3 separate regions of the Homo sapiens genome follow, and all the other regions are reported to be linked to region 2. The links are microRNA targets in miRTarBase. Many come from high-throughput screens and were not tested one by one. Region 2 holds a microRNA gene; each other region holds the end of a gene's coding sequence.
Evidence for each region. The annotated mature microRNA hsa-miR-1288-5p reads GCAGAUCAGGACUGUAACUCACC and lies in region 2 at 2,192-2,214, opposite strand. An mRNA with a match to its seed (bases 2 to 7 or 8) in the 3' UTR can be bound and repressed. Matches are read on the target gene's strand: a 7mer-m8 pairs with bases 2 to 8, a 7mer-A1 pairs with bases 2 to 7 and ends in A, and an 8mer does both.

Region 1 (3,253 bases), not on the chromosome of region 2:
CTCTGAACATGCTCAGCCCACATCTGAGAATTCTAAAGAACCTTCATCTCTCAGCAAGTTCTCGCTGCCCCCTTGCTTCCACCGTGAGTTCTAAGAATCCATTCGCAAACCCAGTTGACTTCCCCCTTCTGGCTGTTTCCACCTTGCCTCGAAGCGATGTAGAGACATGTGGGGCTGCCTGAATAGCCTAAGGGGTGTCACGCCACAAGGCAATGAAATATGAAATTGTATTTTCTACCACCAAATAGTACCCATCCAAAGAGCACCCTGCCACCCACATTTACATTCCTGGGCAAAGGACACAGAGAGCTGGGAGGAAAGCAGGGGCCCCTCCAGCGGGGGCAGCCCTCCCTGTGCGCCGCTGCCAGGCTGTAGAAGCCCCGGCGTCCTGCTCCTGACACCCCTCCTACCCCTGGGCAGGTGTCCAGCGCAGCCCCGCAGAGCTCCAGGGTGGCCAAGTGGATCTCACCGGGGCCACCTGCCCCTACACCCTGTCCAACATGACCTACAAGGAGGAAGACTTCGAGCGCCTGCTGCGGCTCAGTGACTACAACGTGCAGACCAGCCAGGGTGCCATCCTGCAGGCCCTGAGGACCGCGCTGAAGCACCGGACTCTAGAGGCGAGGCCTCCAAGGGCACAGACCTGAGGTTGCTCAGAGGCTGCAGGACCCTCCAGGGCCTGCGGGCATAACCTGATCTGTAGCTGGGCTCAGCCACAGGCCTTCCTGGTTGGAGTTCTGGGCTCTCCCAGGCCTGGGTGGCCTCTGTAGCTGGTCTCACTGCCCAGAGGGAACTGCACACACAGACTTCTCTCTTACGTTCATGGCTGGCTTGAGATGAGTTGAAAATAACTTCGCCAGGCCAGTGTGTAGAACAGCTGGTCCAACCAGACAGACTTTCACACCACAATTACTTCCATGCCTGAGCAGGATAGATTTGAAGTGCAAGCCGGAGGCAGCAGATCAGGAGTAGGGACAGGAAGGACAGGGGATGCCTGACCTGACAGGTGGCTTCAGGCCTCGGGAATCACAAGACATCCTGAACACATTGCCTCCTCATCTTCTTCCTGCTCCTCCACCTCCTCCTCTCCTTGTCCTTCTCCTCTTTGTCCTCCTGCTTTCCGTATCCAAGTCTTGTACTTGTTTAAATTTATTCCTAAATATTTTATTCTTTTTGATAAGTGGAGTTACTTTCTTAATTTCATTTAGATTATTCATTGCTATTTTATAGAAATACAATGGATTTTTAAATGTTGATCTTGTATTCCGCAATCTTGCTGAAGTTGTTTACCGGCTCTAATACTTTTGCGGATTTCTTAGAATTTTCTGTAGACAGATCATGCCATCTCCAAATAGAGATGGTTTTACTTCTTCCTGTCTGATCTGAATGCCTTTTATTTATTTTTCCCAATTGCCCTGAGCAGTACAATGATGAACACACGTTTCAAGAGCAGACATCTTGTCTTGTTCCTGACTCTGACAAGAAAGCATAAGTCTCTCACCATTTAGTGTGATTTTAGCTGTGGGTTTTTCTTGGACATCCTTATCAGGTTGAGAAAGTTCTCTTTTATTTCTAGTTTATTGAGTGTTTTATGATGAAACGGTGTTAGGTTTTGTCAAGTGATTTTTCTGTGTCTATGGGCATGATCATGTGGTTTTGTCGTGTATTTTATTAATGTACTCTATTGCATTAATTGGTTTTTGGATATTAAACCAACTTTGCATTCCTGGGGCAGTTTCCATTTGATTATGGTATATAAACCTTTTTGTTTATTGCTGGCACATTTCTTTTTCTTTTTCTTTCTTTTTTTTTTTTTTTGAGACAGAATCTCATCACACTCTGTCACCCAGGCCAAGTTCAATGGTGCAATCTGGCTCACTGCATCCTCAACTTCCTGGGCTCAAGTGATCCTTCCACTTCAGCCTCCCAAGTAGCTGGGACTACAGGCATGTAACACCATACTTGGCTAAATTAAAAAAATGGTTTTTTGTAGAGATGAGGTCTCACCATGTTGCCCAGGCTGGTCTTGAACTCCTGAACTCAAGCAATCCTCCTGCCTCAGCCTCCCAAAGTGCTGGGATTACTGGTGTGAGCCACCACGGCCAGCTGCTAGCACATTTCTTACCTCCCTCATGCAAGGGTGCGTGTACACATACACACACACACACACCTGGCCCCAGGTGGGGGTTGTAGTGAGAGCTTCGGGACAGACCTTGGCTCAGGGACTGCCCTCATCTGATGTCCTCTCTCAGCTTCCTTCCCTGTGCCTCTTCTGCATTTGGCTTTATTTTGATTCTTCACTTTTTCCCTTTATCATGGACTCTTATTTTTTTAACAGTGATATGGGAATTGACTAGCTGTTGTGTTTTATTTTATGCTGGGCATTTTACATTATTCCCCTTAATTCTCACATTTGCCTAATGTGTTAGGTAGAATTACCGTCTCCTTGTTATCAGTGATGAAACTCAGGGTTGGGAAAGGAACAGAACAAAGCATCCTGTGACTCGTCTGCAGGTCCCTGGTGTCCGCCTGATGCACACAAACTTCACAGAGCACCTGTGTCAGGCAGGGTCACCGCGCCCCCGTGACGCAGCAGGACAGAATCAAGGCCACTCCATAAATATGCCTGAGCATGGACAAAAAATGAGGGCACTGTGAAACCATAAAAATGGCCAAACAGTGCCCTCTCCTGTTTCACGTGAGAGACTGCGGTTTCTCTACCAGGCTTTTCGTCCCTCCCGTTCTTCCACCTCCTGGATAAAAATTGTGAAGATCCTCAATTATAGACTCGCCCCACTCCCTGACAGCACCCAATCCACAGCAACACTTTGCTTCCTTGAACATTTCGTAATGTCACCCTACAAACGCCCAAATCCTTCAATAAGCACCCCCCCACCACACACACACACACACACACACACACACACACTTACTGAGACTGCACTGCCTCCTAGTATACAGTCTTCTTAGTGCAATGGGTACCAGTTAACTCAAATTTGTTTGGCTACTGGGCTGTTCCTGCTGGCCTCTGGCTGGTAGGCGTCCACAGGGATTAAGTAACTTGCTAACCTCAAAGGTGGCAAATCCAGGACTGGAGCTTCTGACAGCCACACCTCTCTGTGTCTTTGGGCACTGACTTTGTAACGTGCCCTATTCGTAGTTTAGAATTAACCTCACCAAAGAGAGGTCCAGTCTCTGCCCGTGGCTAGTGGGAGGTGACCTCTGGGTCCTGGAATGTCCTGTCTGACAGGAG
Region 2 (3,253 bases):
ACTTTGGGAGGCCAAGGCGGGTAGATCACCTGAGGTCAGGAGTTCAAGACCAGCCTGGCCAACATGGTGAGACTACGTCTCTACTAAAAATGCAAAAAATTACCTGGGTGTGGTGGCGGGCGCCTGTAATCCCGGCTACTCAGGAGGCTGAGGCAGGAGAATCGCTTGAACCTGGGAAGCGGAGGTTGCAGTGAGCCGAGATCGCACCGTTGCACTCCAACCTGGGCAACAAGAGTGAAACTCCGTCTCAAAACAAAAAAAAAGAAAGAAAAGCAGCTTTCATGAGCAATATCCTGGTGGCCACCCAAGTTCATGATGAGGCAGATGCGGGATGTATTTCCCTCTCTATGAGGCAATGCTGACAGACCAGGAAGGGAACTATGAGATAAGGCTTTAAGCTTGATCGATGGATTCTGATTGAAGTTAAGTGGGTTCTTACTCATATTCAACAGCATTAATAGTAATTGCTAACTCCTTAATAATTCAATAAGAGCTTTTGTATAATCGGTGATTTAAAAAGTTTTACAAAATCTTCACACTATTCAATTGTTTAATATAGATTAACATCTCTCTCTTATTTTTTTTAAGAGACAGGGTCTCAGTCTGTTGCTTAGGCTGACCTTGAACTCCAGGTCTCAGATGATCCTCCCACCTCACCCTCCCAAAGTGCTCAGATTACAGGTGTGAGCCACGGCACCTGGCCAGATTAACACCTCTTCTAAGAGCAGTGAGTCTTGAATGAGCATGGCTCCTCAGAAATATCTTTTTTTTTTTGAAATAGGGTCTTGCTCTGTCATCCAGGCTGGAGTGCAGTGGTGCAAACACAGCTCACTGCAGCCTCAACCTCCTAGGATCAGGCAATCCTCCTTCCTCAGCCTCTTGAGTAGCTGGGACTACAGGCATGCACAACCACGGCCAGCTAATTAAAACAATTGTTTTGGCCAGGCACAGTGGCTCACGCCTGTAATCCCAGCACTTTGGGAGGCTGAGACTGGCAGATCACCTGAGGTCAGAAGTTAGACACCATCCTGGCCAACATGGTGAAATCCCACCTCTACTAAAAATACAAAAATTAGCTGGGCATGGTGATGTGTGACTGTAATCCCAGCTACTCGGGAGGCTGAGGCAGGAGAATCGCTTAAACCCAGGAGGCAGAAGTTGCAGTGAGCCAAGATCATGCCATTGCACTCCAACCTGGGCAACAGAGTGAGAATCTGTCTAAAAAAAAAAAAAAATTCTTTTTTGGTAGACATGGGGTCTCGCCATGTTGCCCAGGCTGGTCTTGTACTCCTGGGCTCAAGTGATGCTCCCGCTTCAGCTTCCCAAAGTGCTGGGATTGAGCCACTGCACCTGGCCAGAGATATCTTTTGAAGTAGACATTGCTTACTATTACTGGCTGCTGGACCCATAATAGGGGCTGAGTCCTATGACCAGCCTGGACATCTTTCCCAGCTTCTTGAGAGGTGCCAACATCACATCAGGATATATGTATGAGCTGCATTCTGCACTGACTCTTTCACCAACTTAATGAGCACTCTGGATTCCTTGAGATCATTCTTAAAAAGAGTTTGAGGAGGATACCTTCCTTCCACATGACTAATGCTGATTCATTAACCAGAGAATGCAGGAGTTAGAAGGGACTTTAGGAACCATCTAAGTAGTCCTGTTAGCCTCAGAAAGAGTAATTCTAGGGATATTTTGTGAAATCAACACTGACTATGTTTGGGAGGTAAAATGATTCCTTTGTCAAGGTGTTTGGGTATGGGTGTTTAGGGTATGTAAAATTAGATATTTTACATAATAGTAGTAACTAGACTGGTGAAAAAAAAACAGACCAATTATTTACCTCTAATTCAGCATTCCATTGTGCTATCTCTCTCCTATAACTTAGGCTTTTCTAAGTTGTAAAGAACAAGGATATGGAGTCTTTCTACCTCCCTCGTGCATGTTCACTCTGAGATGCTGGCTATGGTGGGCAAGAAGGAGGATAAGCCAAGGGATGCCCAGCCATTCCTCTCACACCCAGAAAAAGGGAGGGCTTTCAGGGGACTGTGGGCAGGCAAAGCTGAAGGAAATTTGGGATATGTGCTAATTCCCAGGAAGACCCTGTCTGGTGATGCTCAGATAGCTTCTGTAGGGTGAATTATTCTCGAAAGGCAGTGGTCTCCAGATCAGGGCAGTCCACCACTATGGTGAGTTACAGTCCTGATCTGCTGATCAACACCCTCTTAGCAGTGCCCCCATGGACAGCTGTCGCCCCCCTTCCATTGTCTGGGGGCAATAGCAGAATGTCTGAGGATGGGTCTTACAGGTTGCATTGCTCTTGCTCCCCTTTGGCTTGCCTGCTTCATGTCAGATGGGAGCTGTACCAGTGGGCACCCCACCTGTGTACCAGAGCTCCTGCTTCTGCAGGAGACTGAGGCCAGTATTTCCTCCTTGTCATGGAAGATTCTATCACAGGTCCCCTTCTTCTTTCTCCTTTAGCCAGTCTCATAAAAATTTGCCAATATCAGTATCCAATTCCTTCTAAAATTAATATTTCTTAGATGTAGGCAAGGAACTAAGCATTAAATATTGCAGCAGAAAATATACACGCCTACCAGGCTAGGGATTTATAGGGAAAATATACAAGAGAGATCCAAATCACTTCAAAATTATTTCCAAGTGGGTTGATGCTATTTGATGTGGTTACTTAAGAATGTAGACAAAAGATACACTTGCAGTGCTGGCCAGAAGATAGCCTTAGTTATTATGAATGTTGCATCTGGCTTTGCAAAGAGCAAATGCCTAGACACATTCTCAGGGATGGGATGGGATTTGTTAAACAATCTCTTGCATCCAGTCTCTGAAACATAAAAGCCGTTGATATTCTTTTAGAGCAGGTAAAAAATGCTTGGACTTTTCTTAGAAAAGGGAGAACATTCCTAGAATTAGCATCTAAAACATGTCAAAATTTAGCTTGCAAAAATGAGTTCAAAATGAACTACTGTTCTACAGCAATGTTTTCCAATTGAGGTCCACAAATCCCTGAGAGTCTGTGGCTAAATTCTCAGGGGTCCATGCATTCCTAGAAAAATTTTTTACTTAAATAATAATCTGAAACATTTCATGATTATTTCCTTGAAAACTTCAAATGAATGTATGTTCATGTGATTTTAGTGCTTATATTTATACATGTGAAAGCACAAGAGTCTTCTCAAAGTAAGTGAGATTTTTTTTCCTTTTAAAAACACCTAGTGAGCCAGGCATGGTG
Region 3 (3,253 bases), not on the chromosome of region 2:
CCCTCCTCATTTGAAGTCATCTGCGACGATCCTGTGGTTGATCCAAGATAGAATGAAGTTGGCCACCTGTCCCTGGGCTATTTCAGGGAAGTTTTCTGGTTTTGTTTTATAGAAACAGGGTCTTGCTCTGTTGCCCAGGCTGGAGTGCAGTGGTGTGATCATGGTTCACTGCAGCCTCAACCTCCTAGACTCAAGAGATACTCCTGCTTCAGCCTCCTGAGTAGCCAGATTACAGGTGTGCCCTACCATGCCCAACTAATTTCTCAATTTTTTTTGTAGAGACGAGGGTCTCACTCTGTTGCCCAAGCTGGTCTTGAGCTCCTGACCTCAAGCAATCCTCTCACCTCCTCAACCTCCCAAAGCATTGGGATTATAGGAGTGAGCCACCTCACCCAGCCTAATCCTTTTTTTTTTTTGAGATGGAGTCTCATTCTGTTGCCCAGGCTGGAGTGCAGTGGCAAGATTTCAGCTCACTGCAACCTCCACCTCCTGCGTTCAAGCGATTCTCCTGCCTCAGCCTCCCAAGTAGCTGGGACTACTGTCACACACCACCATGCCTGGCTGCTTTTTGCATTTTTAGTAGAGACGGGATTTCATCTTATTGATCAGGCTGGTCTCGAACTCCTGACCTCAGGTGATCCACCCACCTTGGCCTCCCAAAGTGCTGGGATTACAGGCGTGAACCACCATGCCCAGCCCTAATCCTCATGTTGAGGTCTGTTTTAGGGGGACTCAAAGCACGACAGCCCCTCTTTATTCGAAGTCATGTGGAAGGATCCTGAAGTTGACTCAAGACAGAGCTGTCGGTCCCCCGCCTGTTTGGGGGAAGTTTTATGGCATGAGGGGACACAGGGCTCTTACCACACCCTCACCCCACAGTAGCTCCACTGGCCAGCTTTTTTTTTTTTTTTTTGGTTTGATTGTGTCTTGCTCTGCCGCCCAGGCTGGAGGGCAGTGGCTCAATCTTGGGTCACTGCAACCTCCACCTCCCAGGTTCAAGCGATTCTCCTGCCTCAGCCTCCCAAGTAGCGAGGATTACAGGTACCCCCCCCCCGCCACCCCGCCCCACTACACTAGGCTAATTTTTGTACTTTTAATAGAGAGGGGGTTTCACCATGTTGGCCAGGCTGGTCTTGAATTCCTGACCTCAAGTGATCCGCCCACCTTAGCCTCCCAAAGCACCGGGATTACAGGCATGAGCCACCATGCCAGGCCCCACTGGGCAGCTTCCCTACTGCACCTGCCCTGGTTTCCTCCCAAATCTTGTCGGCCATCCAGGGGTGGGGAACGTGGGCAGTGTTTTGGTGCCGAGCAAAATCCCACAAACTGCTGTGAAAACCAACCAGGAACATTTATTAAAAAACTAAGCAAGTTATCCCCAAGAGGGTGAAGCACCGCTGGCTGGTTCTGACATTCGATTCAGGCTGAAGGCACGGCAACTCCTCCAGCCCTTGCTGGGAAATGTCCTACCCAGGCCACGGGCAGTGCCCCAGTGCAGCTGGGTCCCCTAAAAGCCCCCAAACACATGATCCCACCAAAGGCTTGAACAGAGCAACTTCATCAAGCAGGCAGGGACCACACCTGAGACACAAGGGCAAGGAGGTAAAGCACAGGGGACCGGGAGTGGGCCAGGGACACCCAGCCCCCGTCTCCAACTGGCGCCCCCTCCAGGGGGGCTAACATGTGGCGTGGGGCCACCAGGACCTGTGCTTGCCCCTGGTGGCGGAAGAGCTACCCTCCCTCTTGGGTGGTGGGGGGATGTTGTCTGCACACAGCTCAGACGACCGAGGGTACAGGAAGAATCAAACTCAGTCAACCATTCTTCAACCCAACTGGGAGTCTGTGAGGCCTGGCACACAGGTGCTCAATAAACACTTGTGGCATGAAGAAGTGAAGGAACCGATCTTGTTCATCTCTGTGCCCCAGCACTCGGCATGTAGCCCATGATCGAAAATGCAGACTGAACAACTGTCACACTCTTTTGTATCACTAGTGCCCGGCACACAGTCAGTGCTCTTCAGGTGTGTGGGAAAGAAGCCAATGAGTGAGAAGTTCCCACACCGTCTAGCAGTGAGGAAAAAAAGAAAAAAGTAAAAAGTACCTTGTTTACTCCCATTCCCATCCCATAGCTCAGCTCCCTGCACACAGCAGGTGCTCAGTAAGTGTACCGAATCAGGAACTTATCTTTGTGACATGAGTGCCAGGCACACAGTAGGTGACCAATATGTGCTTGAATAAATGGATAGAAGCATCTTATTTATCTCAATATTCCCAGAGCCTGGGCTGGGCACAGTGGCTCATGCCTGTAACCCTAGCACTTTGGGTGGCCAAGGCGGGCAGATCACTTGAGGTCAGGAGTTCGAGACCAGCCTGGCCAACATGGTGAAACCCCGTCTCTACTAAAAATACAAAAACTAGCCAGATGTGATGGCACGCACCTATAGTCCCAGCTACTTGGGAGGCCGAGAAACAAGAATTGCTGGACGCTGGGAGGCGCAGGCTGCAGTGAGCCGTCACACCACTGCACTCCAGCCTGGGTGACAGAGACAGACTCTACTCTTAAAAAAAAAAAAAAAAAAATCCCAGAGCCTGGAATGGCACCCAACACACAGTAGGCACTCAATAAATCCTTGAATGAATTTTAAAAATGAATGTGTATCACTAGTGCCTGATTCTTAATCTGATCAGTAACTGCTTGATGACTGAATCAATCGCTGATGGAGGGAACAATTATGCCTCATTCACTGCCGTAACATGGGAACCTTGCATACAGCAGGTGCTTAATAAATGCTGGGCACATGAACAGATGAAGAGGGCTTGGTTCCTCCCAATTCCCCAGGGCCAAGCCCTGTTGCTGGCATGCAGTAGGCACTCCATTAATGCTGCCTGTGTGCACGTGATTGCTTAGCAAGAGCTGGCTGGACACCACCCCACACGAGAGCCCTCTGTGGCCTGCCAAGGGGTCCAGAGGTGGACCTGATGTCCTCAGTAAGCACGTGGAGCCTGGGCCACCGATGGCTGCTTTGGCTTTCTGGCTGCTACCCCTCAGAGTTCATCCCGGGCAGCACTGTCCAGTGGGGACTGGAGCACGTCCGAGTTCTTGGCCTCACGGCTCAGTGCCTGCTGCTCCCGCATCTTCTGGGACTTGGCGCGGTCCCAGTCGGTCTTGACGTGCTCATTGTTCCATACGACTGAGGTCTCGGTGTCACTCACATAGCCATCGTCTCCTGTGTAGTGTGTGGGGTAGATGAGC

Region 1: the mRNA of PLA2G4D is a reported target of hsa-miR-1288-5p. Seed matches in the 3' UTR shown: 7mer-m8 at 694-700 and 8mer at 1,379-1,386.
Region 3: miRTarBase lists COLGALT1 as a target of hsa-miR-1288-5p. Seed matches in the 3' UTR shown: 7mer-m8 at 2,338-2,344.

Annotation. Positions count from the first base shown.
Region 1 is chr15:42,066,109-42,069,361 of GRCh38, reverse strand. It overlaps PLA2G4D (phospholipase A2 group IVD), which reads left to right. Exons shown (of 20, transcript NM_178034.4): 20 at 421-2,353. The coding sequence ends at 647. Among named protein-coding and RNA genes, the nearest start is that of PLA2G4D, 27 kb to the left of the region's middle.
Region 2 is chr17:16,280,989-16,284,241 of GRCh38, reverse strand. MIR1288 (microRNA 1288) reads right to left here and starts at 2,228; the gene lies at 2,154-2,228. All of the region lies in intron 2 of PIGL (phosphatidylinositol glycan anchor biosynthesis class L), which reads right to left.
Region 3 is chr19:17,581,237-17,584,489 of GRCh38, reverse strand. COLGALT1 (collagen beta(1-O)galactosyltransferase 1) reads right to left here. Exons shown (of 12, transcript NM_024656.4): 12 at 1,333-3,253. The coding sequence ends at 3,046. Among named protein-coding and RNA genes, the nearest start is that of COLGALT1, 27 kb to the right of the region's middle.